Regions from separate parts of the Homo sapiens genome. Here regions 1, 2, 4, 5 and 6 are each reported to be linked to region 3. Evidence: microRNA targets listed by miRTarBase, many of them from high-throughput screens and not tested one by one. Region 3 holds a microRNA gene; each other region holds the end of a gene's coding sequence.
The links. Region 3 holds the annotated microRNA hsa-miR-4756-3p (CCAGAGAUGGUUGCCUUCCUAU, at 3,554-3,575, opposite strand). A microRNA usually pairs through its seed, bases 2 to 8, with sites in the 3' UTR of a target mRNA and lowers its output. Matches are read on the target gene's strand: a 7mer-m8 pairs with bases 2 to 8, a 7mer-A1 pairs with bases 2 to 7 and ends in A, and an 8mer does both.

Region 1 (4,991 bases), not on the chromosome of region 3:
TGTACACAAACAGTAAAAACTTGAAGCATATACACCTCCAACATGTATATGCTGTTAAACTATGATAACTGCCACTTTTACAGATCAAAAACAATTATCAGCAGTTTATTGTGGTTCAACCTTTTATTTATAAATTAATGACCTACATGTACTAATGAACTAATATTGATGTATATTTGATGTATATATATAAAATACATCCAAAGTGAGAAACTAAATAAGGCTGAGCCTCAAAATGAATATAAATCAAAGGCCTAATCTTTTCTTCCCACCCCCACCCAGCCATCCTGTGTGCCCTCTTCCCCTTGGAGGCCACTGCCCTAAGTGAGGATCAGCATCGACTCCACCACAGCCCACTTTAGTGGTGACAACTTTTAATCCACGGAAGCAGTTTTTCAAAGTGAAAACTGTTTCAAATCACGAAGCTTACCACTTAGACAATTCAGACAAGGTAATGCTCATTTAGACTGACACAGGTATGAAAATTCCAATCCCTTCTTTTCACTATCATTGTATCTGACACACACATCACCTTCCTAGGCACTATGACACTATCCTGGGAGAAGCAAATGTGTACAAAGAAGCACAATCCTGCTCTCTCCCCACACTTCACATAAACCAGTATAGTCCCCCTGTAGTCAAGGCTTCAGATGTCAATTTTCTGTTGGAGACAGCGTCTTGCTACGTTACTCAGGCTGAAGTGCAGTGGCCATTCACAGAAATGATCATAGCATACTGTAGCCTTGAACTTCTGGCTTCAAGCGATCCTGCTGCCTCTAAGCCTCCCAAGCAGCTGGGACTAAAGGTGCATATCACCATGCCCAGCTTGATGTGAATTTTTAAGCAATAATGCCTCATTAGGCCGGGTGCAGTGGCTCACGCCTGTAATCCTAGCACTTTGGGAGGCTGAGGCAGGTGGATTACGAAGTCAGGAGTTTGAGTCCAGCCTGGCCAATATGGTGAAACCCGGTCTCTATTGAAAATAAAAAAAAACTAGCTGGGTGTGGTAGCACGCGCCTGTAGTCTCAGCTACTCGAGAGGCTGAGGCGGAATAATTGCTTGAACCCTGGAGGCGGAGGTAGCAGTGAGCCAAGATTGTGCCACTGCACTCCAGCCTGGACGACAGAGCAAGACTCTGTCTCAAAAAAATAAATAAATAAAATAATGCCTCATTAATTTGGAGTAAGGTTGGGGGGCATAGAAGACAGAATAAATGCAAAAACTAAGTCACAGAGTGTTTCAAGCTTAGGCTCTTTAACTTTCAAGCTTAGACTATTTATCGCTCATTTTAATTATCTTCTTTACTGCACAGGTCAAGATGTCAAGAATACTCTATATTGCCAGGTGCCAGGGCTCATGCCTGTAATCCCAGCACTTTGGGAGGCTGAGGTGGGTGGATTACCTGAGGTCAGGAGTTCGAGACCAGCCTGCCCATCATGGCAAAACCCCATCTCCACTAAAAATACAAAACTTAGATGGGCATGGTGGTGCATGCCTGTAGTCCCAGCTACTGGGGAGGCTGAGGCAGGAGAATTGCTTGATACCTATAATCCCAGCACTTTGGGAGGCCAAGGCAGAAGGACTGCTTGAGGCCAGGAGGACTGCTTGAGGCCAGCCTGGGCAACATAGCAAGAAGCCATCATTACAAAATAAAAATGTTTTAAATTAGCTGGGAATGGTGGCATGCACCTATAGTCCCAGGTACTAGTAAGGCTGAAGCAGGAAGATGGCTTGACCCCAGAAGTTCGAGGCTGCACTGAGCTTTGATCAGGCCGCTGCACTCCAGCCTGGGTGACAGAGCAAGATCCTGTCAATAAATAAATAAATAAATAAATAAATAAATAAAATATATAAATACTTAAATAATCTTTTTAAGAGCAGTACTATTCTGTCTCCAGCAATGTCAAACTATGAGAGTCAAAAATATTTTAAGGTCTGCTGTGTGCTTTCCTCAGAGGGAAGGAAACTAGGCATCCCACTGCAGTTTCATAAATACGTAAATAATCTTTTTAAGAGCAGTACTATTCTTTCTTTTTTTTTTTTTTTTTGACAGAGTCTCGCTCTGTCGCCCAGGCTGCTGGAGTGCAGTGGCGCAACAGAGCAGTACTATTCCATCTCTAGCAATCTCAAACTGTTAAGAGTCAAAAATATTTTTTTTTTTTGAGATGGAGTCTCGCTCTGTCGCCCAGGCTGGAGTGCAGTGGCACTATCTCAGCTCACTGTAAGCTCCGCCTCCCAGGTTCATGCCATTCTCCTGCCTCAGCCTCCCGAGTAGCTGGGACTACCGGCACCCGCCACCACGCTCAGCTAATTTTTTGCATTTTTAGTAGAGATGGGGTTTCACTGTGTTCGCCAGGATGGTCTCGATCTCCTGACCTCGTGATCCGCCCGCTTCGGCCTCCCAAAGTGCTGGGATTACAGGTGTGAGCCACCGCACCCAGCCCAAGAGTCAAAAATATTTTAAGGTCTGCTGTGTGCTTTCCCCAAAAGGAAGGAAACTGTAGGCATCCCACTCCTCCCTCCCAGCAAAGGAGACCAACAGACAAAAAATACAGAATGCTTCTAGGATTTTTTTTTTTAAGGAATAATCTAAATATAAGAAACTATTTCCTTAAAAATCCTGACACTGGAGTTCTGCTACCAAAGACACAGTCAAAGATCTAAATAGCCAGAGTCAAAAAAAAAAAAAAAAAAAAACCCACAAAAGTTTATTTGAGAACAAGAGTGAAAGCTTTTGCACATCTGACAAGGTAGACTTGTTTTACAGTAGATGCCATCCATATTCAGCCCTACCAATACTATCACAAATGAAACATACTATTTCTTACAAAGATATAGGCATAAGTCAAGGACTATGACTAACTAGAGTGAAAGGAAAGGTTAGACCCCAAATCTTATCCCTTAGACCAATCATAACATAGGATGTAAATTAAACCATTCAGTCTTCTAATGTAGTGGTTCTCAACCTGGCTTCTTATCAGAATCCCAGGAACTCTTTTAAAGAAATTCCCAATAACTAGGCTGTACCCCAGTCTCTAGGGATGGGATCCAGGCATGAGTATTTTAAAGCTTCTCAGGTGATTCCAATGTGCAGCCAGACCCTGTCGCAAGTTCACCACAGCACTAGAGGCAGGTAACGATTACTAGCAGATTCCTCAGCCCCAACAAGCCCTCCAAGAAAGGGAGACCTGGTGGGCAACACTGGCTCTCACTGATGCTATCCTTTCACTCCACTTAAGAACGACATAAGTTATCACTTTTGGTATAATTTTGAGACTTTCCATATGCCATGGTGATTTTTAGAGCAATATTTAATCAGGTGAATACCAGCAAAGAGAGAAAATACAGAAAAAGAAATTTCCATAAGGCATGATATGAATAAATAAGTGAAAAAACAATCTCGGGTTTAAAAGTAAAGCATGAGAATTTGAAGCCTGTGAAATTTTATTTATACAAAAGAATAAAAAGTTATTTAAAAAGAACTGATTTAAACTTATGTTTTTCCATTTTTCCTGTTCCTTGAACATGAATCTACTACCAACTCAGAAAGATTTAAGATAGGTAATTACTAAACACTCTTTACCTCCCCTTGCAAAAAACAGAGGCAAGTTTCCCATTTTACTTATGATAAACCAGATTATTTTCAGTTATGAATATTGGCAACTGCATGAAAGAGATGATCAGATATGTCAGCAGGAAAGTATGAGCTGTACAAAGGCATTACAAAAAAACCCCAAAGAAAATAAGATAAAAACAACAAGAGAAAAACAAGAAAACATAAAACAATATAAGAAAATGCCAGATATTTACAGCCTCCATCTGAAATGTGACTTGTGTTCTACTTTCAGCATAAAACAAAACCAGAGAACATTTCTTGAAGGGTATCACAGATGAAGCTGGTGCCAGCCAGTTTTGGGGGAGACATTCATTCTAAGAAGGGAGAAACGCACAGTTAGCAACTTGCTGGGATTACAACATTGTCTTCATCTTCCTGCAGTTCTGTTACTAAAAATGACATAAAGTAAGACCCAATGTCTTACAGAAATGACTTGTTTGTCACCACATTTAGAACAAACTACTCAAAGTCACAGGCACTGGGTCTGGGAGAGCAGAGGTGGATGGCCACGAACTCAGGTGAAGGATGTTTATCTTTGTGAGGTCAGAGAAGGGAAGCAGGGCTCTACAGCCTGGAAGCTTCTGCACTAATGTGTCTTCTAATAGTCCTAAAGAAAGAAAAACAAAAGTCCCAACTTACTCTCGGCAGAACAGTTGTTTGACCCTAAAGGAAAAAAAAAATCTCATAAACAACTCTACTAGGGGACTGCTCTATAGCTAAAGATTATATTTCAGGCCAGGCACAGTGGCTCACACCTGTAATCCCAGCACTTTGGGAAGCCGAGGCAGGGAGATCACGAGGTCAGGAGTTCGAGACCAGCCTGGCCAGCATAGTGAAACCCCGTCTCTACTAAAAATACAAAACATTGGCCAGACATGGTGGTGGGCACCTGTAATTCCAGCTACTCAGGAGGCTGAGGTGGGAGAATCGCTTGAACCTGGAAGGCGGAGGTTGCAGTGAGCCAAGATCGCGCCATTGCACTCCAGCCTGGGTGACAAGAGTGAAACTCTGTTTCAAAAAAAAAAAAAAAAAAAAAGATTGTATTTCAGGCCAGGCGTGGTGGCTCAGGCCTATAATCCCAGCACTTAGGGAGGCCCAGGCGGGCAGATCACTTGAGGTCAGGAGCTCGAGACCAGCCTGGGTAACAAATTAAGACCATGTCTCTACAAAAAACACAAAAATTAGCCAGGTGTGGTGGCTCATGCCTGTGGTCTCAGCTACCCAGGAGTCTGAGGTGGGAGGACGGCTTGAGCCTGGGAGGCAGAGGTTGCAGTGAGCCAAGATCACACCATTGCACTCTAGCCTGGGTGACAGAGCCAGACCCTGTCACACACACAAAAAAAAAATTTAAAAAAAGATTCTATTCCAAATATAA
Region 2 (4,991 bases), not on the chromosome of region 3:
TCACTGCAGCCTTGACCTCCCAGGCTCAAGCAATCCTGTCACCTCAGCACCCCCTGTAGCTGGGACTACAGGCGCACACCACCATGCCTGGCTAATTTTTGTAGAGATGGGGTTTTACCATGTTGCCCAGGCTTGTCTGGAGCTCCTGAGTTCAAGTGATCTGCTTGCCTCAGCCTCCCAGAATGCTGGGATTACAGTTGCTGGTTTTTTTGTTTGTTTGTTGTTTGTTTGCGTAATCTTCAGATGATTCTGAATCAGACAGGTTGGGAATGATGCATCTGTAACCTTTCAAGAATGGGATTACCACCATCAGTAAACTTTGGTGTCAAATATAATTAAACTGGAAATATTTATCACTGTGCTAAATAAGTAAATGCTTGCTTTGTTTAATCTTCATAATAATATTAAATGAGTAGGTATTCTTATTTCTATTTTTCAAAAGAGGATATTGAAATTTAATGGAATTAAGTAATTTGCCTAAGGCCACATAGCTAATAAAACTATGAGTTCCAAGTATGTCTGACTTTGGAGCTCTTTTAATCACTGTCCCATACTGCCTTTCTAGTGATGCTGACACTGAGCTTCTAATATCACATTCATCATTCTGCCTCTCAAAATAATAAGTAAATGATAAGGTTGGTTATCTGTGTGCTTGGAAAAGGTGAGACCATCTTTTCCTTTCTTTTATCTAGTAGCTATGTTAACAAAATGGGAAGTCATCTGGTGCCCAGTAAAACTTGGAAGTTGTGAAAATGCAGAGTGTGGGGAGGTTGTACTAGTACCTGTTTAGAGCTTAGGACTTGGTACGGCCTTCATGGGATCGTGATGCCACCTGAAGAGTAATTAATATATGTGTGAGATAGTATGGTACTATTTCATAAAGACATTTATCAAATTTTAATTACAAAATTGCTTTATTACAGATCCTTGCCAGCTCCTAAAACCTATGGTAGCATGAAAGATGACAGTTGGAAAGATGGCTGTTACTGACCAGCAAAGACAAGAATGCAGAAGTCCACGGCTTCATGGATACCCTTCACCAGGCTAAAAAACAACTTTTATATGCAGACTGTTCAGATAAGACTCTTGGGATTTATAAAATCCCAGCCCTCTCTGTCTTAATTAGCACAAACCGACAGAGATCATCAAACAGCACTTTAATGACATTTAACATCAGATGTGTTTGGTAATCATACAATCACTCTCCATAGAATCACTTTTAGTTTTGTTTAATAGAAACTAGGTTGATTTTTAAAAAATATTTGACAGAGGCCAATATCTGGGCAAATACCTAATGGATGCCAAAGAGAAATGCCCATTTGTAAATGAGAAAAATGCCCATTTGTGCACAAGAAAATGGTGAATTCAGGCTATCCAAAACTTCACATTCAACCTAATTTACTGTATAAATAGTATCAATAAATATTTGTGTTAATGAGAACTAATATTCTGACTAATTATCTAAAGTGTTTCACTAGTACACCAGGAAACTACAGATTGAGATTAGGGGGTGGGAGGAAAGAAACCTGGGCTAGAGATTAAAACATTCCTAAATTTAGCAGAATTTCAGAAATGATTTTTGCAGATTCATTAGAAAAGAAAAATTGTCATTTAATCTTAAGTTTTGGATGTAGCTCACATGTCACCACCACCAGATAGTGTTACAGCATGTATCCATCATGTTGCATTGACACATCAAACTTGTGTGTGTTTGTTTTGATTGCCAAAAGGGCTTAATATCAGTTGTACAATCTTTCTGAACTTTATAGTTCCTGGCTCAGGAAAGATGGCCTTTGCTATTGAAGCCAACTTCTTCACATGCTGTTATCTTTACAGAACTAAGAGATCTTGTTTCTATTAGCAGGTTTTCATGATAGGAAAGAACAAGTAGTGTGTGTCTTTATTCTTGATACAACACCACCTCGGTGCTTGCAACCTGGAACAAAACCATACCATGAGAGAGAGGGGGAAAAAAATCTATGCACTTAACCTACAAAATCTCTGGTGATGACAGTTGTATTGTTGCTATTACATGGCATAACGGTCTATTATGTGGTAGGAAAATATAGCCTGCTAAATCCTACTTAAGTTGATCCACTTTAAACTGAGTAACTGTATAAAACATCTATTGAAAATTCTTTTCCTTTTGACTTAGATTCTGCCTTACATCAATTTTTGCATTTTTGGTAAAAAAAAAACCCTACTACGTATGACTCTAACCTGATACTTGCTCTCTAATGGCTCTTAATATATCCTTGAAATCGGCTATTTCAATTTTATCAGACTTTTACCAGAGTAAAACTTGCTTCTGTAGCAGGCCTCTCATTTTTTATTATGAGGTCTGTTTTTAAATACTTAATTTGAACAGCTCTAAGATATTGTCACTTAGGTCATCTAAAAGCTTTTAGAGATTTGAACATAAGTTCATTTCCTGTTAATCAAAGACATTCCGTAAGTTGGCAAAAGAAATTGGGAGAGAGAAATAGAAGGCTTGATATTCTGGACAGCATTAAGGTTGATAGGTTGATGATAAAAACTTAAAACCAGGACCTCCATTCTGTCATGACTGACACCATGGTAGTCTGTCAGCTTGACCAGTGGAGAGTCATTCATTTAGCACAAGCAGCTGGAGATTTAAACTGCCAGTACTATGTATTTGGTGTATAATGCAAGGAAGAAACTTTATCCTTGAATTTGAGGGTGATGGGGTGGGTCAGGAAAGGATGGCGCCAGAATTCTACATGATAATGAACTAAAAAATGTTGCTTTTCAGAGGAAGATAAAGCATCTTCTTTTGGGAGGGGGGTATCTCATGTCTAAGTAAGTAAAAGAAAGAAGTAGCTACTGTCTCTTTTAAAAACCACGTACAAAACAGAACAAGTCTCAGTTTTCAGTGCAACATTTCAAAAAATATATATGCTGCAATCTAATAATTAAAAGGAATTTTACCTATTATGAAACATATTACATTTTTTAAGTTAGATAATCAGTTTCAAAAGGAGTATTCAGGTTATTTAACTTTGTTTTTAAATGGCTGCATCAGAAAAAAATGTCTATTTTTTTTTATTAAAATATTTCATCACTTGTTAAAACATATTTTTGATCTGAGTTTGGTAAAGTATTATTTTACCTGCTGTTGTACTACCACAGACTGTTGACTTTTAGTTTCTTAAAGAGAAAAATTGCCTTTTTACTAGAAAGCCTTTGTATATTGCAATTTTTCTGTTTGGGAAAATCTAAGGATTTACTGTGGTTAGTCTTACAGAAGAAATGTGGATTTGATAAACTAGTGCCTATGATTTTAACTTATGTTTGATATATAGTAGTAAGGGTTTTATGAATGTTGATTATTTTGTGCCAACAGCCCAGAATTGTCACTTATATGTAAGCAGAAAACAATGAGCTCTGCTTCCAAAGTTATTTAATTTTCTCAGTGTTTGAATGTTATTTTTTGTAAGTGTGTTAATAAAAGTGTAAAGAATTGGAAAAAATATAAATATTCTTAACTCAAGCATTTGCTGGATCATTTTTCTACAAAACTTGTTTGTACAATATAAAACACTCTCTGAAGAGTTGACTTTTTTTCAGTTTCGTATCCTGGAAATCACATTTTGTAAAACTGGGGACCATTCATAATTGTCAGATACTTTTTAAAATTATCTCAATACATCACTTTTATAAAAAAAAAAAGTTTTTTTGAAAGAAAATTAGATACATATGTGGCCCCAGATGTTTGTATAACTCTAGAATGATCTAGACTATGTATGTTTAAATTAACTTTTTATTGAATGTACAGGTGTCCATTTTTGACGTTAAGCATGGTCCTTTAAGGTCACATGACGTTTGATTTGCAAACATTTCTATAGCCGAACTTGTATATGTGGTTGCCTCCTTAATAAACAGCCTGACCATAATGTTTATTATTAAATTTATATTCTTTAAGTGTTTAATTAATCTCTGGATATGGTAAGATTCCTTTTTTCCTCTCAGTTGCCTACACTTGGTTTTAATAAATTACTCAGTTGAGTTTTTCTTTAACCACAGAAACCCAAATCATATTGCCCTTTCAGATTTAGTCTTCATGGGGTTGGATTATGTCTTATATTTTCTCTGTCAGAGTTATTTCATATATGGATTTTACTTGAAGGAAATTTACAGTTTACTCTAAATTGATTTGTTCTTGGAACTTTTTTACCTGCTGTGAATTGATACCTAGTTATAAAAAGCTAGCATTTGCCTAGATCATAACTATGTATGGTATCTAGTTAGAAAAAAACAAGCAAAAAGCTATTATGAGTTTCCAAGAGGGACAATTAATGCATTTTCATACCAAATGCGAATATTTAGGTGATCACGTGCATCTTTTCTTGTATGGATGGAAAAATCAAGAATTGTACACTGTTTAATGAGTTCTCCATATTCCTTTAGGAGATATTTGCTTTGCAATTACATGTTACAATTAGAATAATTACAATTAAAATAATATTACATGTTACAATTAGATTAATAGTGATGAGAGGGAAAAAAGACACCCTTCTGTTTTTTTCTCTCAAGCCAGTCTAAAAACTTGAAGAGCCATTTAAAATTAAATGTCACTATACTTGTATTATAAATCAATACATAAGTTTAAACCTGTTATATACTCAGTGCAACAGAAAAACCCATATGGAGGTTCAACCACTGATGTATTTTGAATGATCCTAAATATAAGTCTTGGGTGGCTAAATGGCCCTCTGCTTACCAGTCTGAAAATGAAACCGATTATACTCATCGGCCTTATTTACTGTAATACAAACTGGTTAAAACTATGTTAACTGAATGCTAGTTTGAAACAAATTATCTACATTAAGTCATCTTAATGTTTTCTCTTTAAAAGAAATAAAAAAATCTGTTTCTTCTGATTTCGAAAGTAATAGAAACTCTGCTGTAGAACATAAACTAAAAATATTAAAAAGTATAAAGGTAAAAAATGATAGTTGTCTGCAATCCCA
Region 3 (4,991 bases):
CTTGGTCCTCCCAACAACTCTCTGAGTTAGGTACTTTTATTTTCCCAGTTGTCTTATGAGAAGCCGGAGCACAGAGAGGTTGAGTGGCATGTCCTGATACATCGTGGTACCGTGCGAAGGGGTAAATGTGATGGGAAAGTGCCTGGCAGGGCGAGCACCTAGTAGCTATTAGTGATATAGATGTCCCAAACTCAACTCATGATGGTTCGACTGACAATATTTCAACTTTATGATGAGTATCTATCTATCATCTATCTATCTATCTATCTATCTATCTATCTATCTATCTATCTATCTATCATCTACTTTATCTATCTATCTCACACACACTATATATATAACATATTTACAATGTTTAGGGTATTTTATTTTGGTACCAATTTTCCAGGACTATATATCTATATTTCATATTTTGGATATCTTGTCCTATTCCTCGATGACTTACATTGCTTTGCTAAACGTTTTCTCCTTGGAAATATGCTGTTCTTTGTTTCTCCCTCACAATAAGTGGAGCACAGCGTTTCTGGAGTCAGGAGCGATTTTGGCCCCGAAGGGGCATTTGGAAATGCCTGCATGCAGTTTTGATAGTCACGGTTCAGCTTTGGGGGGCGTGCACTGGTATCCGGTGGGTAGAGGCTGGGGACGCTGCTACATACCCTGCAATGCCAAGGACCGCCCCCTTCCCCCAGCGAAGAATTGTCTGCTTTGCTGAGGGTCGCTAGTGCTGATATTGAGGGGCCCTGCTCTAGTGCCTGGACTTGGGGATGTTCTCCTCGTGTTTGTAGCCAGGTGTCACCTAGGGATCTGCATTTCTGAAAAGCACGTGAGTAAATTCGTCTGTGGTGGTGAAATAGCGCAAGCCCTCTGCCTGGGCTCCCCTCTGGCTCACCCTGGCCATATGCATAAGCCCTGGCTCCGTGTCTGAGAAGTGAGGGGTGGAGGGAAGGACCATAATAGATTCCTTGCGTGGAGCTCCTGTGAAGATTAGAAGGGTGTGGCCCATGTGTTGTATAACTGGGTGGCTGGTGCACAGCAGCTGAGGAATAGAGATAAGCTGTTAGTATAAGCAGTAAATAAAATGGACCATACATTAGCAGTAGTAATACCTAATATTTTTGTAGCGCCTACCTTATGCCAGCCATTGCTCTGAATGCTTCTCTGTGTTAACTCACAGCTTCCTTATCAGAACCCGATGAGGCAGGTATTTTTTTTCTTTTTTTTTTTTTGAGGCGAAGTCTGGCTCTGTCGCCCAGGCTGGAGTGCAGTGGCGCCATTTCGGCTCACTGCAAGCTCCGTCTCCCGGGTTCACACCATTCTCCTGCCTCAGTCTCCCGAGTAGCTGGGACTACAGGCGCCTGCCACCACGCCCGGCTAATTTTTTGTATTTTTGGTAGAGACGGGGTTTCCCCGTGTTAGCCAGGATGGTCTCGATCTCCTGACCTCGTGATCCGCCCGCCTTGGCCTCCCAAAGTGCTGGGATTACAGGCGTGAGCCACCGGGCCCGGCCGAGGCAGGTATTTTTATTGTCCCCATTTTACAGATGCAGAACCTGAGCCCAGGGAACTTAAACTCCTCACTTAAGATCATGCTATGGATTGAAATGTGTCCTTCCAAAATTCGTGTTGGATTCGTGTTGAAGCCCTAACGTGCAATATGACTGCATTTGGAAATGTGGCCTCTAAGGAATCAAGGCTAAATGAAATCAGAAGGGTGGACCTTGATCTGATAGAATTAGTGTCATTATAAAAAGAGACACCAAAGAGCTCTCTCTGTCTCTCTCTCAACCGTGTGAGGACACAGCAAGAAGGCAGCTGTTGGCTAGCCAGAAAGAGTGGTCTCACCAGAAATGCATCGGCCAGAACCTTGATCTTGGACTTCCAGCCTCCAGAACTATGAGAAAACAAAAATGACTGTTGTTTAAGCCACCTAGTCTGTGGTGTTTTGGTTACCACAGCCCAAGCTGACTAATACAGATCATCTTCTAGTAAGTGGGAGAATGAGGACTTAACCCTCGCAAACTCAAGTCCAGAGTTTAGACTTTTAACTTTTCTATTTTCATACTTTCTACTGTCTCTTCTGCTGTATAAGTGATGTTATAGTTTTATGAAATATTTATATGTAATATAATAGAACATGGAATAGAAAATATTTCCTGCATATTCATTCTTGCAATGAGAAAATTATAACTAGGCAAGGAATATATATGGTACAATCTAAAGTGAGGATTAGGCCGGGCGCTGTGGCTCATGCCTGTAATCCCAGCAGTTTGGGAGGCTGAGGTGGGTGGATCACTTGAGGTCAGGTGTTTGAGACCATCCTGGCCAACATGGCGCAACCCTGTCTCTACTAAAAATACAAAAATTAGCCAGATGTGGAGGCACAATGCCTGTAATCCCAGCTACTTGGGAGGCTGAGGCAGGAGAATCGCTTGAACCCAGGAAGCGGAGGTTGCAGTGAGCCGAGATCACACCGCTGCACTCCAGCCTGAGCGACAGAATGAAACTCTCTCAATAAGTAAATAAATAAATCAAATAAAGTGAGGATTGAACAATTGAAGGGTCACTGATAATCACTGTAAGGATTTAGCGCCAGGGCTTGGCAGTACTCAGGTGAGTAAACGTTAGTTATTGCTAATATTATTCATTTATCTTATTATTGTTATAATTGAGTTAGTTCTGTGTTCTGATCCATGAGTGAATTGGCCTCCTGGAAGCTGCCCTCAAATCCCTCCTCTTTTACACAGTGATTGATGGTCCATGTCGCCTCCTTGTAGTTACAGATTAATAATAGGCCCTCCTCCTGGAAACAGGCCAAACGCCAAACCCCATGCAAGCTGGCCTGGAGAAAGCACTTCTGAAACTTCATCACCAGCAGGCAGCTAGACGACTGTTGAATGGGAGGGGGGGTGGTTTTGAAGGGTGGAATGGTGACAGAATTAGTCACCAAGTAAACAAGCAACACCTTCGATCAATGCAATGGAATGTAGGTAACCCAGGGGCCCTCCTCACTGCTCAGCTGAGGGTGACGCCAACATGGCCAGGCTGGCACACCCAGCAGAACCAGCCCTCTGCCCCCAACATCAGTAAAGACCTTGCAGGAGGAAAGAACAACCCCGCTTTGCCTGCCCCACAGTCCTGCAGCTCCATGTGTGTGCCCGCACAGTGCTAGGAACACGGCAGCTATTATCAGGAGTGCCAGGTACAGTGCTACAGGTTGCCTCCTGTACAAGGGGACACAGGGAACTGAAATCCAGTCCTCACTGAACTGCCCAAGCCCTGATTCCTGGTATGGGACTTTGTGGGTCCAGGGGCAGGGGTGCCTTGATCAAAATCACCTTGGATGTTTTAGGGCTGCTTGGTGATTGATGTTTTGCTTTCGGAGTACTTAATTATGTTTGCACAAACGGATGGTAATCCTAAAAATCTTAGAGCTCGCTCTCATAGTCTTATTATTGCACCAAACATTGTTAAGTGCATGATAATCGCAGGTAATTTTAATTGGAGGCTTACTATGTGCCAGGCAGCACCAGGGTGAGCATAGCAGGACACAAAATATAGGAAGGCAACCATCTCTGGTGCAGAATCGGCAGCAGAGAGTGAGCGCCTCCCTGCATTTTATCCCCCAGGTGCTCACTGGCTTCACCCTTGCCCTGACCCTGGTGCCAGGCACTTCACACACATTGTCTCCTTTTCCCTTGCAGAGTCCCATTATTCCCTGATTGCACAGATAAAGAAACCAAGGCTGAGCAATGCCATCCCCTCATCTCACGAACGTCACCTCCATGAGGGTAGGCACCTTACTAGTCCTACTTGCCCAAGAGTAGCAGTCAGAAAGCTACGGGGAGGCACACCTGGGGTTTGAACCTGGGTCCACGTGACTCAGGCACTCAAATCCTGAACTGCTTCAGGGCAGGGCACTTGGCTTGAAGAGAAGCTGCAGACACAGAGACAATCAAGTCACATCTAATACTCCAGCAGGACAGATGAGCCTGCAAGGTGCAAAGGTACCCCCGCCCCCAACCCAAAGCCTTTTTCAATTCCTCTCCCTCCACATCTCTTGTCATGGTAAAGCAGGCAGAATCCATGGGCTTTAACGGGCCCATTGCTTTTCCCAAAGCTCATGCCTTTTTCCTAAAAACAAAACCCTTCTGGGTTCCAGAACTCTTTGGAAAAAAAGAATCTTCTGTGATTTGGGACATTGGTTTGTTCCCCCACCCTCACTTAAATGAGAAACTACTTTAGCATGCCCCGCCCCGTCTGTTGTCTTTATTTAGGAGGAAGCACCCTCTACATACCCTGAGTATATACACCCAGGGCCTGAAGCTGCTGTGATCAGCTCAGGATCCCCAGGAGGCTGAGGCGGATCAGGCCCTGGACTCCGGGGGAACAATGTAAGGGACACCAAAAAGCTCAGCCATGGAGATGAATAGTATTTTAACATGAAATTTGTGAAAATCAAAATTACCGCTGTTCCTGATCTTATCTTTCTGTAACATGTTCATAGTTTGTTCATCACGGGTGTCTTGCCATTAATTCTGACTTTTAAAAATGTTGTGTTAACATACCGTTTATCTCCATGACTGAGTTTTTTGGCATCCCTTACATTTCGTGCCCAAGGTGAGAGTCTCACTGGCTGCACCCTCATCCCAGGCCCGACTGGACTCCAGTTCCACAGCATCCTTTCCATGAGACCTGGAACCAGATGCAGCTCCCTCTTCACCCAGCTTCATGTTCCTAGTTGTAAAATGGAGACGATGGTAACAGCGAAAACAAGAACCACAGCTAAGAGTTACTAAGTGCACAGGTATTTACGGGCAGTAGAGTCCTCTCAGCCCTTTGATCTCAGTACTGTTATTAGGTTCACTTTACAGATGAGGAAACTGAGGCCCAGAGGGCTGAGGGAACCTGCTCCAGGGCACCCAGCCAGCCCAGGGTGGAGCTGGGGCTGGCATCTGGCGGTGTGGCTGCAGCGCACCCGCATTCTAATCGCAA
Region 4 (4,991 bases), not on the chromosome of region 3:
CTAGTTCCCCATCAGATATATGGTTTGCAAATATTTTCTCCCATTTCATAGGTTCTTTCATTTTGCTGATTGTTTCCTTTGCTGTGCAGAAACTTTTTAATTTGATGTAATCTCACTTGTTTACTTTTGTTGCCTGTGCTTTTGGTGTTATATCCAAAAAGTCATTGTCAAAACTAATGTCAAGGGGCTTTTCTCCTATGTTTTCTAAGAGCAGGTGTTGATAATAGGAAGGAAACAACAGGAAATTTAAGGGCAGTAGGACCCTTAACTATTCAAGACTGTTTAAATGGTGTTTGTACTTAAAGTAAAAACTACCTGAGCATATTTTAACATATGCCTCAAGTCTGTAGCGTGGATCTGGATTGCAGATTCTCCAGTGCTCAATCATCCTATATTTGTGGGAAGAGAAGTCTGACATTTCCCAAAGGATTAAGTAATATTGTTTGATATGGAATAAAGTGCCATGTATATTGAGCTTCTTTAGGAGGATAGTTTTATTTATCTTTTTGGATTTCTGTCAAAATAAATGCAAGGGGAGGGAGGCCCAGTGCTCCACTGGTTCCTTGAACAGAGGTGAATTTACTGTGAAACAATGGCTCTTAAGCTTCAGGGGCTCCTGCTTGCGTGAGCTCTAGCCATGTATTTACAAGATCATTGTCATATTTACAGAAGTAAGACATTTTAAACATAATTGATGAATGCCATTGATTAAGACCACTGCCTCTTTTCACTCCCACTTCCCTTGATGTCGGGTGGTGCTGAAGTGGCTGTGGACAAAGAGAAGTTGAGTTGGGGATACATTTGGATTACAGGGATATATTCATGTTGTTCACAGTCACTTCTGTGTTGAGTTACTACTAGCTGTCCTGATTAGGAGTGGCTTCCAGGAATATTCTTATAGACTTCTGTGCTAACTCATCTGGCATCAGGACAGTACATCAATAACAAACTGAAACATCATAAGCTTTAGACTCTGAGAAACCTGGATCCACCTGCTCAATGAGCATAGTTCTTTGACTATCTAGAGTCTGTGCAAACCCGTGAACACCTCAATTTGGCATCCCAAGTAGAAGAGTGGTGATAGAGGATTCTTTGATCCTTTGATCTACTGCCCCACATGTTACTGTCCTGGCCAAGAGCAATGAAAGATCTATTGTTGGAAAACTTTTGGCCTGATTTTACACTATTATTTGAACTACAATCTAATTTAGAACATTTTAGAACATTAGAACATTTAGAACAAGGAGAAAATGTATATTTTTTTCAGTTGCTGTGTATCCTCTCTGCTTTTGTAGCTATGTCTGTATAGCAAAAAGAGAGTGAGATGACTTGACTCTTAGTCTGTATTAATTCCTAATTTAACCCTCCCTACAATCATTTGTTTAGTTCATTACAAAGAGTTACTCTTTCAGCCTATTATATTTGTTGTTGTTTTTATAAAATATTTTTAGTAGAAACAAAAATATTATATAAAAATATAAAAGCTTTCATAAATCCTTAATGTAGAAAACAGAAGTTTTTTAAAAAATAGAATCCACTAAGTTTGTTGTAAATTCTTACCTTTTTTGGCATACAGTATATGCATATTATGTTTAACTTAGTTAAAACATTTTATGACAAAAGTGGATCATATCCATATTGCTTTTAAACTTGTCTTTTTCACCTAACAGTATATCTTGGACATCTTTCTGTGTTCTTTTTAAAGGGCTGTCCAGCATTGGGTGGTGGGGGGAGTGGTCTTGTTAATACCATTTAGTCAATCAATTCCTTATATTTGGGTGTTTTCTGGTTTTGGTGTTTCTTTTCCTTTTTTTTTTTTTTTTAACTATAACAAATGATGCTATAATGAGCATTCTTGTTCATATATCTTTGCACACTTTGGGAGTTGTTTCCCCCGGTAATATAAATTTCTAGCCATGGATTGCAGGATCAAAAGATATTTACATTTAAAAACATTAACAGATGTTCTCAAATTGCCATCTAAATCATTGTACCAATTTATAGACTCGCCAATAATGTATGAGAGTGCACTCTTTCTCCACCCTTGCCAGCCCAGTATTATCAATCACTTTAATCTTTGCCAATCTTGAAAATAGTAGCTAAGGGTTTCTTAATTTTTATTTATTTAACAGTAAAGTTGGACATCTTCTCATACCTTCATATTATTATATTCTTCTGTGGCTTGCCTGTTCATATCCTTTGCCCATTTTGAAAAAAAATTGATTATTTTCTTACTTACTTGTAAAAGTTATTTGGGATTACTTGGGATATTAGCCCTCTGTCTTAGCATGATACTTGGTTACAAAGGACACTTACCATTGCATTATTTTAATATTTCTTACTTTTTCGTTGGATACCATATCATCACTGAACATACTGCATTTTAAACTCTTAAATTAAATTCTGCTATGAAAATCCCTTCAGTTATAGACTCAATGATGCTGCATGTGGGTTATTAATAGCAATAAAAGGAGATGTTTCATAGAGTTAAAACATTACAGAAGTGAGCATTAGTCAAAAATTTACTCAGAAGGTAAACTTGTTCTGTATTAGGGGAGGAAGTTGTCACTTTTCTTCCCTAAGCCAAGGAAGGAGCCTAAGTCGGAAGCAAAGTTTCCATTGCCAAGCTTACATAAGTTCTGTGATTAGAAATTAGTCCTTGTTATAGCCGAGTGCATATCCTGAATAGTTCATTTTTATGTTTCATGAATATACTGCTCAATATTAGGCTCTATATTTAATATTTATATCTAGAAAAGTTAGACAATTTTTTTTTTGAGACAGAGTTTTGCTCTTGTCACCCAGGCTGGAGTGAAATGGCGTGATCTCAGCTCACTGCAACCTCTGTCTCCAGGGTTCCAAGTGATTCTCCTGCCTCAGCCTCCCGAGTAGCTGGTATTACAGGCGCACGCCACCACACCCGGCTAATTTTTGTGTTATTAGTAGAGACGGGGTTTCACCATGTTGGCCAGGCTGGTCTCAAACTCCTGACCTCAAGTGATCCACCCACCTCAGCCTCCCAAAGTGCTAGGATTACAGGTGTGAGCCACTGCACTTGGCCAACAATTTTTAATTGTATAGGAAACTAGCATTTTTGAAGTACTTCTGAATTTAGCACCTAGGTCAAATTACGTTGGATATGTTTTCATGGAAACTGTTGTATTCTCTTATTTTGCATGGTTTGGCTCTTAATTGCTTATAATTCTGGTACATATTGAGTACAAGGAAAATATATTTTAAATATGCATAAGTTAGACTTGCTACAAACATTGAGATTAGAAGTTGCAAACTGACCACTAGGTCATATCTGCTCCACAGGCGTATCTCACATAGTTTGAGAACTATTTTGAACTAGTTGCTAAAGCTTAAAAATAGAGGAATTTCTCTTGAAAAGTGGAATTTTGGATAATAATGGATTTTATATATATATATATATGTTAGTCATGGACTGTCACTACATAGTAGCTATTATTTTTAGACAGAGTAAGTGCTCTCCAATTTGCCAGAGCTCCTGTCATTCTTTAATATATTACAGCTGGCCTACTTCACTCATGTACCTTATGTAGATTCCTCTTTCGTTATTTATAGGTATATATATACATAAAGGCAGCTATATAAAGAAATTTCTTAGTTTTTTCATTAATAAATTCAAGACATCCGAAGCTTCTTTGCTTTATTATTTTTCTGGTACATTCGTCTCCTTAAAAGGAGACATTAGAAGCAGTAAACATCCCAGAGATAGTAACTTTCTTCTTCAGAACTTTTTCCAACAAATCACTCCATTGGCTGATGAAAAAGAAGATGACTGAAAAGGTTTATACTTCCTGGAGTTCCACTATCTTGCGCTGTAATTTCTTTAGGTCTTTCTGTACTTTATATTTCTCTAAATCCATCTTTGTTTTCTGTATTTGTTGGAGGGAGCTGAGAGAGTCATGAATTGATTTAAATCCTGTAAGAGGGTAAAAGAATAGGTACACTTAAACAATGCATTAGAGCTTTTTTTTAAAAAAGTTGCTAATCGGCAGTCCTGCCATAATTGATTATCATTTAATTCCAAGCGCATTAAATTCTATGAAGACCAGCCTAAAATTGTACATAATATATTTCTTGTATGTCATGAAGATCCATTCACAATAGTGTTTCAACTTATATCTAGTTATCTGGTTTCATTGTGAAATTTATTTTTCTCCTCCTCAAATATATTGCATAATTCTATATTGCAAGAGAGAAATTTAAAATATTTTATTCTTTCTGAATGCTTTGATGAGAGACTTGTGTGATTTTTTTTCAGTCTTGTTACCAAATTGAAGGTAAAGATCACAGATGAGATTTTAAATCTTCTCTGAAAGTAGCCTATTTGAGGGACCTAACAGCGGCCCCCTGCTGCCCTCCTCCCTCCTAGCACTTTGTATCTCTCTTATGCATGTCTAGTCACTCCTGACCACAGACCTATCAAACCTCAAGGCCTTAGGGCACAACCCATTTGTTATTCACTGGGGCCTTTCACAGAGTCGTTTCTCAACACATTTTTATTAAAGGCATAAAGCAGCAAACCATTAATTTGAAGTTCCCCCTTTTTAGAACTCCTCCTCATTAGTAAAATGAAAGAACTTGCAGGTGGTAAATTCCTTTTCAGTTCACCCTGAAGTTTTACTAATGGAATAAGTAAAATTAAACCTCTGATAGTTAAACAGAAAGCAGAGCCTTTAAAAGAAGGGCCAGTTAAGTTTGGGACATGATTCCTGGCCAGATAATTCATTATTTTGATATGACGGTGGGAGGGGTATATTGTGAGGGTTGAATTTCCAGGCAGCAAATTCTACTTATATGCCAGGAACATCTGGCAGATTGAGACCCTCATGTCCTCCCAAGGCACCTCCAAGGTATCTCTATACAGGACCAAATTTGGTAGAATTTACACATGAATTTTTCTGAGATCTAGAAGACAAAAGAAAAAAAATTACTTGGGACTTTCTCTAGGAAAGAAACTC
Region 5 (4,855 bases), not on the chromosome of region 3:
ACATTCAGTCATTTTCAGCCTCCACCTTTCCCCACAGAAGGATTTCCATGTCTGAGGGTGGCGTTCCCTGCTTCCCAGGCCTGGGCCCCCTTTGGAGATCAGGTGTGGCCCCCTGTGCACTCTTGACCAACACGCAGTCACCACACCCAGCCCACTCTTGGCACCTCCGGGGCACCCTCTTCTCAGTCTCTCTTGTTGCCAGGTCCTGGCCTATTTCACTTTCTGCCTGTGGATAATTCCGTTTGCGTTTTTTGTGTCACTTTCGGCCGGGGAGAACGTCCTGCCCTCTACCATGCAGCCAGGAGGTGAGAAGGGATTTGTAAGGGGCCCAGGTGGGGGCAAGCCAGCAAGGCCTGGGTTGGCAGGGGTCCACTGAGGGAACCTGAATCTAGCCCTGTGTTGGAGACACCTGGACTCGGGGTTGGGAGGGCCGTGTTCACACACATGCGCACACACACACACACACTCTCTCTCTCTCTCATATTCTTGCCTGTATCTCCACAGATGATGTCGTCTCCAATTATTTCACCAAAGGCAAGCGGGGCAAACGCTTAGGGATCCTGGTTGTCTTCTCCTTCATCAAAGAGGCCATTCTACCCAGTCGTCAGAAGATATACTGACCCCCATGCAGGCAGGATGTGGGGGGCAAGATCAGGAGAGTCAGGCCCCTGGGCCTCTATGCCAGGTGGGGACCAGAAGTCGGGAAGGCACCTACCACCTGCCCTGGCTTTCTTCCCCTCAACTCTGGAGCCCCATCCCCACCCTCCTTGGGGGGCTCAGCTTGGCTCAGATCTGATGCTTCAAGAGGCTGTAACCTCAGAGGGCACCAAGGAGGGTGGCAGAGCCTGCTTAGCCAGGAGGCCGAGGTCCCTCAGTCCTCCCCTGTCCCTTCCAAGGTGGGTCAGGAGGTTCTGGCCCCGCTGGGGCAGGCAGGGCAGGGTCTGTGAAGCTTAAGAGCAGATGGTGACAAGTTCTCTGGGCAGGTGGCCATGGGGAGGGGCCATGGCTTGGCATGTCCAACAGAAATAGTTTTTGCTGTTGAACGGTGATTTCTGTCCAAGTGCAGATTTCCGTTTGAATAAAGCTTCGCTTCTAGGTGGCACTGTTTGCCTTAATACCCTGACAGTTCATCTTCCTTTCTTCCTGCTAACCTTCTGCTCTGGACTGGACTCACTTTTCTGCTCCAGGGACTCCTTTTCTGGGTTTGGGTCTTGCCCTTCCCAAGGGACTGTTCTTGTGGCCCTTAATGGGAAGGGGGCAGGGGTGAGGAGCTGAGCCTGCTCAAGGAGTGGGAAGTGGGGCTATAGGCAGCCTCTCTGATGCACTCTCTTCCATCTCTTTCCCCAAGGCTCCGTGACTGTCAAACTGGGAGTAGGAGAGGGGACAATTTAGGACTGGGCTAGATTTTCAGAAGAACATCTACAATATCCTATTTATAAATCTTCCTCTGGGAAAAGGAGTGGTTTCTGGCTGAATACTATCTTAGGCTCAAGGAGAAACAAAATAAAAATTAGCTTCCAGGCAGCCTGTTTTTAAAGAAATGGGACTAATGGGAGAAGCTGTTTGTCACTCTAAGAGCATCCAAGCCCTGGCCCGTCTGTGCACTCTTGGCTCCTGGGGAGATATATCTGCCTTCTAAGAAGGCAGGCCAGGTCTTGGGCACAGACCTGCATTTGTTGACCTTGCACTCCAACTATAGTGCCTTGCAAGTGCTCAACAGTACATATTGGAATGAAGTCCCTATGAGAGCCATTTCTGGCCATGTTCTATACCTCAAAGTGAGGCTGGCAGGTACAGAGATGAACTGTACACATGTGATACATTTAAGCCACTGGAAAAACCCCTGTGCTTGAAAATATTTCCTCTATATCATGCCTGGAGTTCCATCATAGCCCTTCATTTCCTTGGCTTTAGCATTTACCTTCTCTTAAGAATACCAGCTTTCCCCTTTCCCTGAGAGGAAGAGCACATGTTGGTCTCCTCTTAGTGTGAACGAGATTGCCAGGCCCTTTTCTCCTATGCACACCAGGATAGACAAGGCAGGGGATACTGGCAGCCTGCATCATCCTCCCATTGGGCTGACAGCTGGCCCTACTTTCCTCCCTCTGCTGCTTGGTCCCTCACCTTGATGATGTGGCTTCGCCCCCTCCACTCTACTGCCAGTGTTCTCCCAGGGCTTGCTAAATCCAGCAGACCCCTTTCCTGTCTTACTAGATCTGGGCAGCATTTGACATGGCTGATCACCCCTTGCTTCTTGGATGGCACTTCCCTGGCACCTCTGTGGCTAGTTGTCCTACCTCCCTGGCTGTTCCTTTCAGGCTTCCGTGCAGGCTTCTCCACTTGCCCATGCACAGTAGGGTCTTTCAGGGTTCTGCTGTGGGCTCCCTAGGGAAGCCCATCCATCTGGATGGTTTCAAGGATGGTGAGGAATTTAGAGTTGACCTCCAGCCCCAACATCCTTCCTGATCACCTGAACCACAGTTTTGCTGCCCTCTAGGTGCACAGACAATTCAGGTCCATGGCCCAGATGGTACTTGCTGTCTTCTGCAAACCTGCCCCTTCTGGGTACTTCCCTTGACCCCGAGATCACTCAGGAGCCAGACAGGAAACTTATTCTATTCCTGTTTTCTCTTTCTGCCCACCACATCCAATCTCTCAAAACGGTCAGGTCTACCTTAACATCTCTTGATTTGAGCCACTCCCACTGTCATCAGCTTTCACCTGGATTATCGTGACAGCCTCCTACTGCTTCTCTATCATGTGGCCAGAGCTATCTTCCTAAAATGCATTGCATAGTTGATCAAGTCACTCTCTGGCCTAAAACCTTCCTTGGCTCCCTGCTGCCCTCAGGATAAAGTCTGGACCCCTCAGCATGGCTTGTGAGACTCATGGTGTCCTTGTCCCTGCTCACCTCTCTGGTCTCATCACTTGCCTTCTTGCATTCTGGGTCCCAGCCTCCTGTATCCAGAGATGCAGTGGCTCTCCATTGCCACTCTGATTCCTCCTTTCTTTTGGTCACAGAGAAAGGGTACTTTCTCTGTCAAATCTCAACTTAGACTTGACTTCCTCCAAGGAGCTTTGGCTATACTCTCTCCTCCCGACCCCCACCCTGGCATACTACACAGATCACTCTGGGCTCACTTGCCTGCCTAATGGTCATCTCCCCAGTAGACTGTAAGCTCCTTGAGGGCAAGGATTGTGTTGGAATTTTTGTATTAACAGTGCCTGGCTTGGTGCCTGGCACCTAGAAAGCACTCAATAAATGTTTGTTTAATGAATGAATTGTAGTGATGTGTACAAGGGGATACAGGGAAGCCAGTTAACTTCCTGGAGGAAGTACAAGTGCTTTCATAGACTCGAATGGAAACCACACATCCCTCCCCTCCCTTGATGTACTGCCCATGCCTCCCTGAACTGCAGAAACCTCAGTAGCCGCTGGGAATAAGGATGGCAGCCCAGAGTAGCAGGGAAGCCCATGCCAGGGGGACATATTAGTTGCCCTCCACCCCATTCTGGGTCTCAGCTTAGAGCCTGCAGCAGGAAGGGCTTAATCTGAACAAGAAACAGAATTTCCCAGTGGGTCCTTCCATCCTGGAAGCCTGGGCCCTTAGGGCTGGGAGGGCAGTGGGGGTGCCAAAATGTGACAACTTTTACAATGCCAAGGTGAAGAATAGTGTCTGACCCCCCACTCTCAACCTAACTTGGATTTCCTGGCGGCGGTGGGGGGGTGCCAAGAGATTTATTTGCAGAGAAAAGGGAGGCCTGGGGTCTGGGCTTTTGATTGGGAAGGGTGACTCCTCGAGCTTGGGAGTGGGAAGCCCATAGGCACCCCTCCCCCTTTCCTCGCCACCCACAACGTGAATTGCCACACTTCAGCCTTCACTGGGCTGCCTCAGGGGGAGAGGTAGCCATAATAACTTTATGGGTTGGTTTGTGGGGAGGGCAGGGTGGGGAGTCCTTGATGAGATCGCACAGCTGCCAGGAAGGCTTCATCGAATGTGTCACGCAGGTTCATGGCCAGAGTGTCGGTCCAGAAGGTGTTGTCACCCAGGTGCCGCTTCCTGGGCACTTCCCTCATGCTGATGGGGTAAAAGCCCTGGGGCACCTTCATTCTGTATGGCCATACACGTGGGTACAGCATGCGCAGCAGCACCTCAAAAGGCAGCCGCGGCACGGGCGCCACCCAGTGGCCGTCCACTGTGTGCAGCCGCGCACCGCCGTGCCCATCAGGCCTCACCTCCAGGAAGCTGCTGAAGTCGTGCTCCGGAGTGGGGTCTGGATGCACGCCCAGGCGGATGCCCTGCGAGTGGCTGATCTGGGTGGTGGGGGGTCTGGCGGGGTTGTTGCTAACATTCCACATTGTGGGCCGCTTGACCGTGGGCTTCCTGTAGATGGGCTTGGGCATCTCCGTGGGCTGTGGAATGCATTGCAGGCGTGCATCCACAGAGGGGTGGAAGCTCCTGGAACGCTGCGATTCCCGTTGCTCTGGGGTCTTGGAGAGGGCGGTGGCCCGGGCTTGCTTGGTATTGGAGACCAGAGAGTGGCCTGGGTGCAGCTTGCCGTGGAGCCACTTTCTGATAGCAGCTTCTCTGAGAATTTTGTGCTCTTTCTGCAACAACAGAGGGCACAAGAGAGTCATGGAGGACTGCTGCCCTCTGCTTCTGGGCAAGGAGGTCCTGTGGCTGTAGCTTTCGGAAACCACAGTCTGAAGGATGAGGGAAACTCTGAGTCTGATGGGAGGGAAAGTCTGAGTCTGATGGAAGCAACACCTGCCTTATGGGAGCCGGTGTTCCGATGGGGGAGACAACTTTTTCCATAAGGGAGCCCCTGGGCTGAGTGGGGAGACAAAGCACCT
Region 6 (4,991 bases), not on the chromosome of region 3:
AGCCCAAAAGCATTTGCAGTTAACACCACCAAATCAGCTGTAGTTAAAAATTCTCAATTTTCTTTGGCTAGTTTGAAATTTGTCAAAATATATATAAATAAAAACCCCAGAGATAGAGTCACTCTTTCCTAACAGTGAGACCTCTGTCACTTCTCCATTTGGAAGAAAAGAAACTCTAGCGCTAGAAACATCACCCTGAAGGAGGTGAAAGCAGTGTTCCTTCAGCATCAAAACTGGGGCCAGGGAGGGGCCTCCCTTTGACTTACCCCACCTTCCTATCTGGATTGTGGAGTGTTACTAACCTCCACAAATGGTCTTAGTTTTTTACTATATCTAAATAAAATAAAGGTAAGCCTGGACGCAGTGGCCATGCCTGTAATCTCATCACTTTGGGAGGCCGAGGTGGGTGGATCACCTGAGGTCAGGAATTTGAGACCAGCCTGGCCAACATGGCGAAACCCCGTCTCTATGAAAACTACAAAAATTAGCCCAGCGTGGTGGCACATACCAGTAATCCCAGCTACTCAGGAGGCTGAGGCAGGAGAATCACTCGAACGCAGGAGGCAGAGGTTGCAGTGAGCTGACGTGGTGCCACTGCACTCCAGCCTGGGTGACAGAGTGAGACTCCGTCTCAAATAAATAAAATAAAATAAAATAAAAGTAGCAGTTTCATTTGTATAAGGTCCAATGCTGAATGCCACTTATTTGGGGTTAGAGGTCAAAGAAAGTTTGCATGTCTGCTATGGTGTGTAGGGTTCACCACCTTAGTTCTGAGTTCCTCATTCCCATTCTTAAATCCTCATTCAAGACCTGTCTCAGTCACAGGCTTATGGGACGATAAAGAGGGATGTAAAAGGGAGAGGTGGGACATTTTTCCTGCTTTATAGCTTTGTCTAAGTTTGGCTCTGGCTTCATTAAGGAGCCAAGTGGGAAATACACTCACGGAGCTCCAGCCCCTGCCCTCTGGTCCTCACTGTTGTGAACATGTTGGAGATTAGCTCAGTGCCCTTCCTATTTCCGTTGGTTTTCTGGCACCTCTTATTCTAGTTCCGCTATTAGAATAGCCTATGAAAGAGGATCACATACAGCAAGCACAGGGGAAACACTCCAGAACCAACCACTGAATGAATTACTTGGCTCTATACCACGTTCTTTTATTCCTTCTCCCTTTATTTTCTAGGTTAAATTTATTCTTGTATCATCTTAACATCTGAAACTATTTTTATTACTATTTTATCTTACTTCTAATGCATACTTAAAATACTTCTGATTGTACAGCAGTTTTACCATAAACCTTGCATGTCATTTTCTGATGAATCATGAATAACTCAACCAGACACAGCGTGAGGTCAACAGCAAACATCTGTGTCCTTGGAGGCGGCCTTCTCCCCTTCACGCAGCTGGCTGGCATCAGCTAAACAGCCAGTTATTTAACACACTCAAGCTGTGCACCAGGGCAGGCTGACCAGTGCTTACTGCTGAATATCTTACACATTAAAACAGGAAGATGAAACCAGAAAAAGAATACAAGGGTTAATTACTAGCTTATTAGTAGTTCCATTTTTCTTCCAAAGAAAACAGTTCTGTTGAGTCTCAGGTGGATGTTGGGTAGAAGCAGGACAGCCAGTCAGCGCCGCTTTGAAGTGTGGCTGCAGGGCTTGCGCTCTCCCCAATTCAGCTGTTGAAGCAGGGAAGAGACTTCAAAGCCGGCTTGCTGTTGTTCCTGCCAGTGGGGTGTGTGCAATTCCCATCAGTTTGCTTTAAGGAAAAAACGGAGAGGAATTCATCTCCTGTCACTTGCCAGGGCTTGATGCTCATCAAATAATCTACTAGTTTGTAGTTAGGACCATCTCTATCTAGTGGACACAAAGGAAATTCATTGTGTGACTTACGTTTATTTATGTACATTAATTTTACACATCTGAGATAGCCAGTTTGTGTAATTTGTCCAGATTGTGCCACATGTCAGTGACGAGTAAACCACTCCTACTGCTGATTAAATTCACTTGTGGAAATATACAGTAGCTCTCCTAGGCAAAGGCAAGTTTAGAAGATTGTCCCCTTGTTGCTCTGTTACTACAACCCATAATTACAACTGTTTACAATCCTTTAGTCAGATTTAAATTCAACATGTAGGAAGTGCGCTCAAACTCCTTTGTGAGTTAAGAATTATTCTGTTTGGTCAATTCACTTTGTACTATATATACATTTTTGAACAACACATTTTTAAAAGTAAATGCAATTTCCCTGAATGATTTTATTTGGTCTAAACCTTAATTTCCATTTAAAATGTATATAGTTTATTTCACAATAAGGGGAAAATGAAATACTTGAAGCCATTATTAACTTTTTTTTTTTTTTCTGAGACGAAGTCTTGCTCTGTCGCCTAGGCTGGAATGCAGTGGTGTGATCTTGGCTCATTGCAACCTCCACCTCTCAGATTCGAGCAATTCTCCTGCCTCAGCCTCCTGAGTAGCTGGGATTACAGGCGCATGCCACCACACCCAGCGAATTTTTGTATTCTTCGTAGAGATTGGGTTTAACCACGTTGGCCAGGCTGGTCTCAAACTCCTGACCTCGTGATCCTCCCACCTTGGCCTCCCAAAGTGCTGGGATTTCAGGCGTGAGCCACCGTGCCCAGCCAGCTCACTCTTATAATTGAAAATAGCTCTAGTTCAAAAACGGATTCTTTTGACTTATGTGGACAATTAAACTTCCCCACTATTACCCAGTCAGCTTTTATTTAAATAAACATGAAAAATTAGGTAAAAACATTTCATTGTACAGTACAGCATGGGAAAAGATATGAGGCTCTTTAGGAAAGCTTAGCATGCCAAAAATGCAGCAGTAACCAGACAGCAACATTCACCAGTGGCAGTAATACTGCCTCGCCAGTGGTAGCACTACTACCGCAGAGTTGCCAACACCAATACACAGGCATCCATTTATTCAACAGCAGGTCCCCAGTATGGCCTAAAGTAGAGCTACCTGGTAGAAATGAAACGGGGATAAAAACAAACTCGCTCCTGGGAGCATAATGAGGAAAAATCTAGTTACAGAAAGCTTCTAAAATTAGCACAGGAGTATGCATCATGCTGTAGAAAAGACGGTCTACCATACAAGTTCTGAAGAAGCAAAGATCATTAATTAAAGAGCTGTTAACAGAATATTCAGGAGGCTGTGGCAGGAGAATCGTTTAAACCCGGGAGGTGGAAGTTGCAGTGAGCAGAGATTGTGCCACTGCACTCCAGTCTGGGCAACAGACTCTGTCTCAAAAAAAAAAAAAAAAAAAGAGCTGTTAACAACAAATTAATCTGTTATTGATCTGACACTTATCACTCACAGAATACAATGAAACAGGAAGTTATTATTGAAATAATAACTTGCATTTTTATTTTTTAATATTGCAAATGGCATAAACTCCAGGATTCCCACTTCCCAAGATGTGTTTTTATTTCTCACTGATTGTATCCTGAAGGAATCACAGGTCTTGGCAAGGTCAAGTCACCATCGCTGGTTACACATATCCTGGATATGTGCAGGTTCCCTGTGTCAAGGCCTTTTGAGCCACTTGGAGATGTAATTTAAAAAGGCAAAACAATGCACAGAACAATTGGGGAAAAGTTACAAGTAAAATAATTTTATGCAGACAGAAATGTTTTTAAAGCTGTTCATGATTTAGTAGAAAGAATCAGGAGCTTGAAACAATTACTTCTGTTGCTCTTTTTCTGAGGTTTCATTCCAATGAGAGTTGCACACTGTCAGCTTGGTTTTGTGGCTGCTGATAGTCGTACTTTCTTGCTATTCACAACAAGAAAAAGAAGAGATAAAATTAATAAAACTGCAAAATGATTACTACTTAACAATATTACATTACAGTCAAGTCATGATTCTCAATGAAGAATTAGTTTTTGTCTGTTTGTTTCAGAGATAGAGTCTCCCTCTGATACCCAGGCTGCAGTGCAGTGGCACAATCACAGCTCACTGCAGCTTCAACCTCTTGTGCTCAAGCAATCCTCCCACCTCAGCTTCCCAGGTAGCTGAGACCACAGACAGACACCACCACACCCGGCTAATTTTTTATTTTTTGCAGAGATAGGGTCTCGCCATGTTGCCCAGGCTGGTCTTGAACTCCTGGCCTCAAGTGATCCTCTTGCTTTGGCCTCTTAAAGTGCTGGGATTACAGATGTGAGCCACTGTACCCCGCTAAGTAATTAGTCTAGAATTAAAACAATTTTGTTTCTTTGGAAAAGATGTATTACACTTCATGATCCTCTAATTTCTCAACACTGCTGATGCCCATTTTTATATGTTTATTATTATTATTCATGTATCAGGATTATTCATAGCTTTAAAATATAAACATTAAGCTATTAAAATTTCAAAACTGTATTTATTTTTGAGACAGTGTCTCACTCTGTCACCCAAGTTGGAGTGCAGTGGCACAATCATGGCTCACTGCTGCTTTGACCTCCCAGGCTCAAACAATCCTGCCACGTCAGCCTCCCAAGTAGCTGGGACTACTGGTGGACATCACCACACCCAGCTAATTTTTTTTATTTTTAGTATAGACAGGGTTTCACCATGTTGCCCAGGCTGGTCTTTGAACTCTTGGGCTCAAACGATCATCCTGCCTTGGCCTCCCAAAGTGCTGGGATTACAGGTGTGAGCCATCATGCCTGACCTAAGCTATTAAAATTAATGTTTAGTAATTTCTTCCTTTATTACCTGTCATTTCCATCTTAAAGTTAATAATAATGCTTTTGTCCACACATAAGGAATTTGACTATATTTTAACTTAAAAACCTAACAGGCTTATTGTTGATTAAACATATAATAAATGTCTTCAATATAAACTAGAAGAAAAAATAGATATGCAATTCTGTCTTCTTTTTGTACTTCTAAGAAACGTTAATTGAAGAAAAACTGTCTTAACTTGAAACTAGAGAAAATACAGGGCTAAAAATCTTTGTGTCATCCACTGCTTAGCT

Region 1: miRTarBase lists MEAF6 as a target of hsa-miR-4756-3p. Seed matches in the 3' UTR shown: 7mer-A1 at 4,160-4,166.
Region 2: miRTarBase lists SLAIN2 as a target of hsa-miR-4756-3p. Seed matches in the 3' UTR shown: 7mer-m8 at 1,998-2,004, 7mer-A1 at 3,563-3,569 and 7mer-m8 at 3,954-3,960.
Region 4: the mRNA of FAM81B is a reported target of hsa-miR-4756-3p. Seed matches in the 3' UTR shown: 7mer-m8 at 3,734-3,740.
Region 5: the mRNA of TEX261 is a reported target of hsa-miR-4756-3p. Seed matches in the 3' UTR shown: 7mer-A1 at 1,314-1,320.
Region 6: miRTarBase lists SMIM19 as a target of hsa-miR-4756-3p. Seed matches in the 3' UTR shown: 7mer-m8 at 3,227-3,233.

The regions. Positions count from the first base shown.
Region 1 is chr1:37,489,885-37,494,875 of GRCh38, forward strand. MEAF6 (MYST/Esa1 associated factor 6) reads right to left here. Exons shown (of 7, transcript NM_001270875.3): 7 at 109-4,223. The coding sequence ends at 4,215. Among named protein-coding and RNA genes, the nearest start is that of MIR5581, 8.6 kb to the right of the region's middle.
Region 2 is chr4:48,421,088-48,426,078 of GRCh38, forward strand. It overlaps SLAIN2 (SLAIN motif family member 2), which reads left to right. Exons shown (of 8, transcript NM_020846.2): 8 at 924-4,991. The coding sequence ends at 990. Among named protein-coding and RNA genes, the nearest start is that of SLC10A4, 60 kb to the right of the region's middle.
Region 3 is chr20:54,064,865-54,069,855 of GRCh38, forward strand. MIR4756 (microRNA 4756) reads right to left here and starts at 3,621; the gene lies at 3,544-3,621. The region is part of intron 1 of BCAS1 (brain enriched myelin associated protein 1); the gene reads right to left. RefSeq lists an enhancer at 4,449-4,991.
Region 4 is chr5:95,449,107-95,454,097 of GRCh38, reverse strand. FAM81B (family with sequence similarity 81 member B) reads right to left here. Exons shown (of 10, transcript NM_152548.3): 10 at 3,657-3,949. The coding sequence ends at 3,816. Among named protein-coding and RNA genes, the nearest start is that of FAM81B, 60 kb to the right of the region's middle.
Region 5 is chr2:70,984,365-70,989,219 of GRCh38, reverse strand. It overlaps TEX261 (testis expressed 261), which reads left to right. Exons shown (of 6, transcript NM_144582.3): 5 at 203-305; 6 at 505-3,278. The coding sequence ends at 620. ANKRD53 (ankyrin repeat domain 53) reads right to left here. Exons shown (of 6, transcript NM_001115116.2): 6 at 3,721-4,609. The coding sequence ends at 3,920. Among named protein-coding and RNA genes, the nearest start is that of TEX261, 8.1 kb to the left of the region's middle. RefSeq lists an enhancer at 4,339-4,855.
Region 6 is chr8:42,551,354-42,556,344 of GRCh38, reverse strand. SMIM19 (small integral membrane protein 19) reads right to left here. Exons shown (of 4, transcript NM_001135674.2): 4 at 1,150-3,801. The coding sequence ends at 3,737. Among named protein-coding and RNA genes, the nearest start is that of SMIM19, 12 kb to the right of the region's middle. RefSeq lists an enhancer at 1,453-1,974.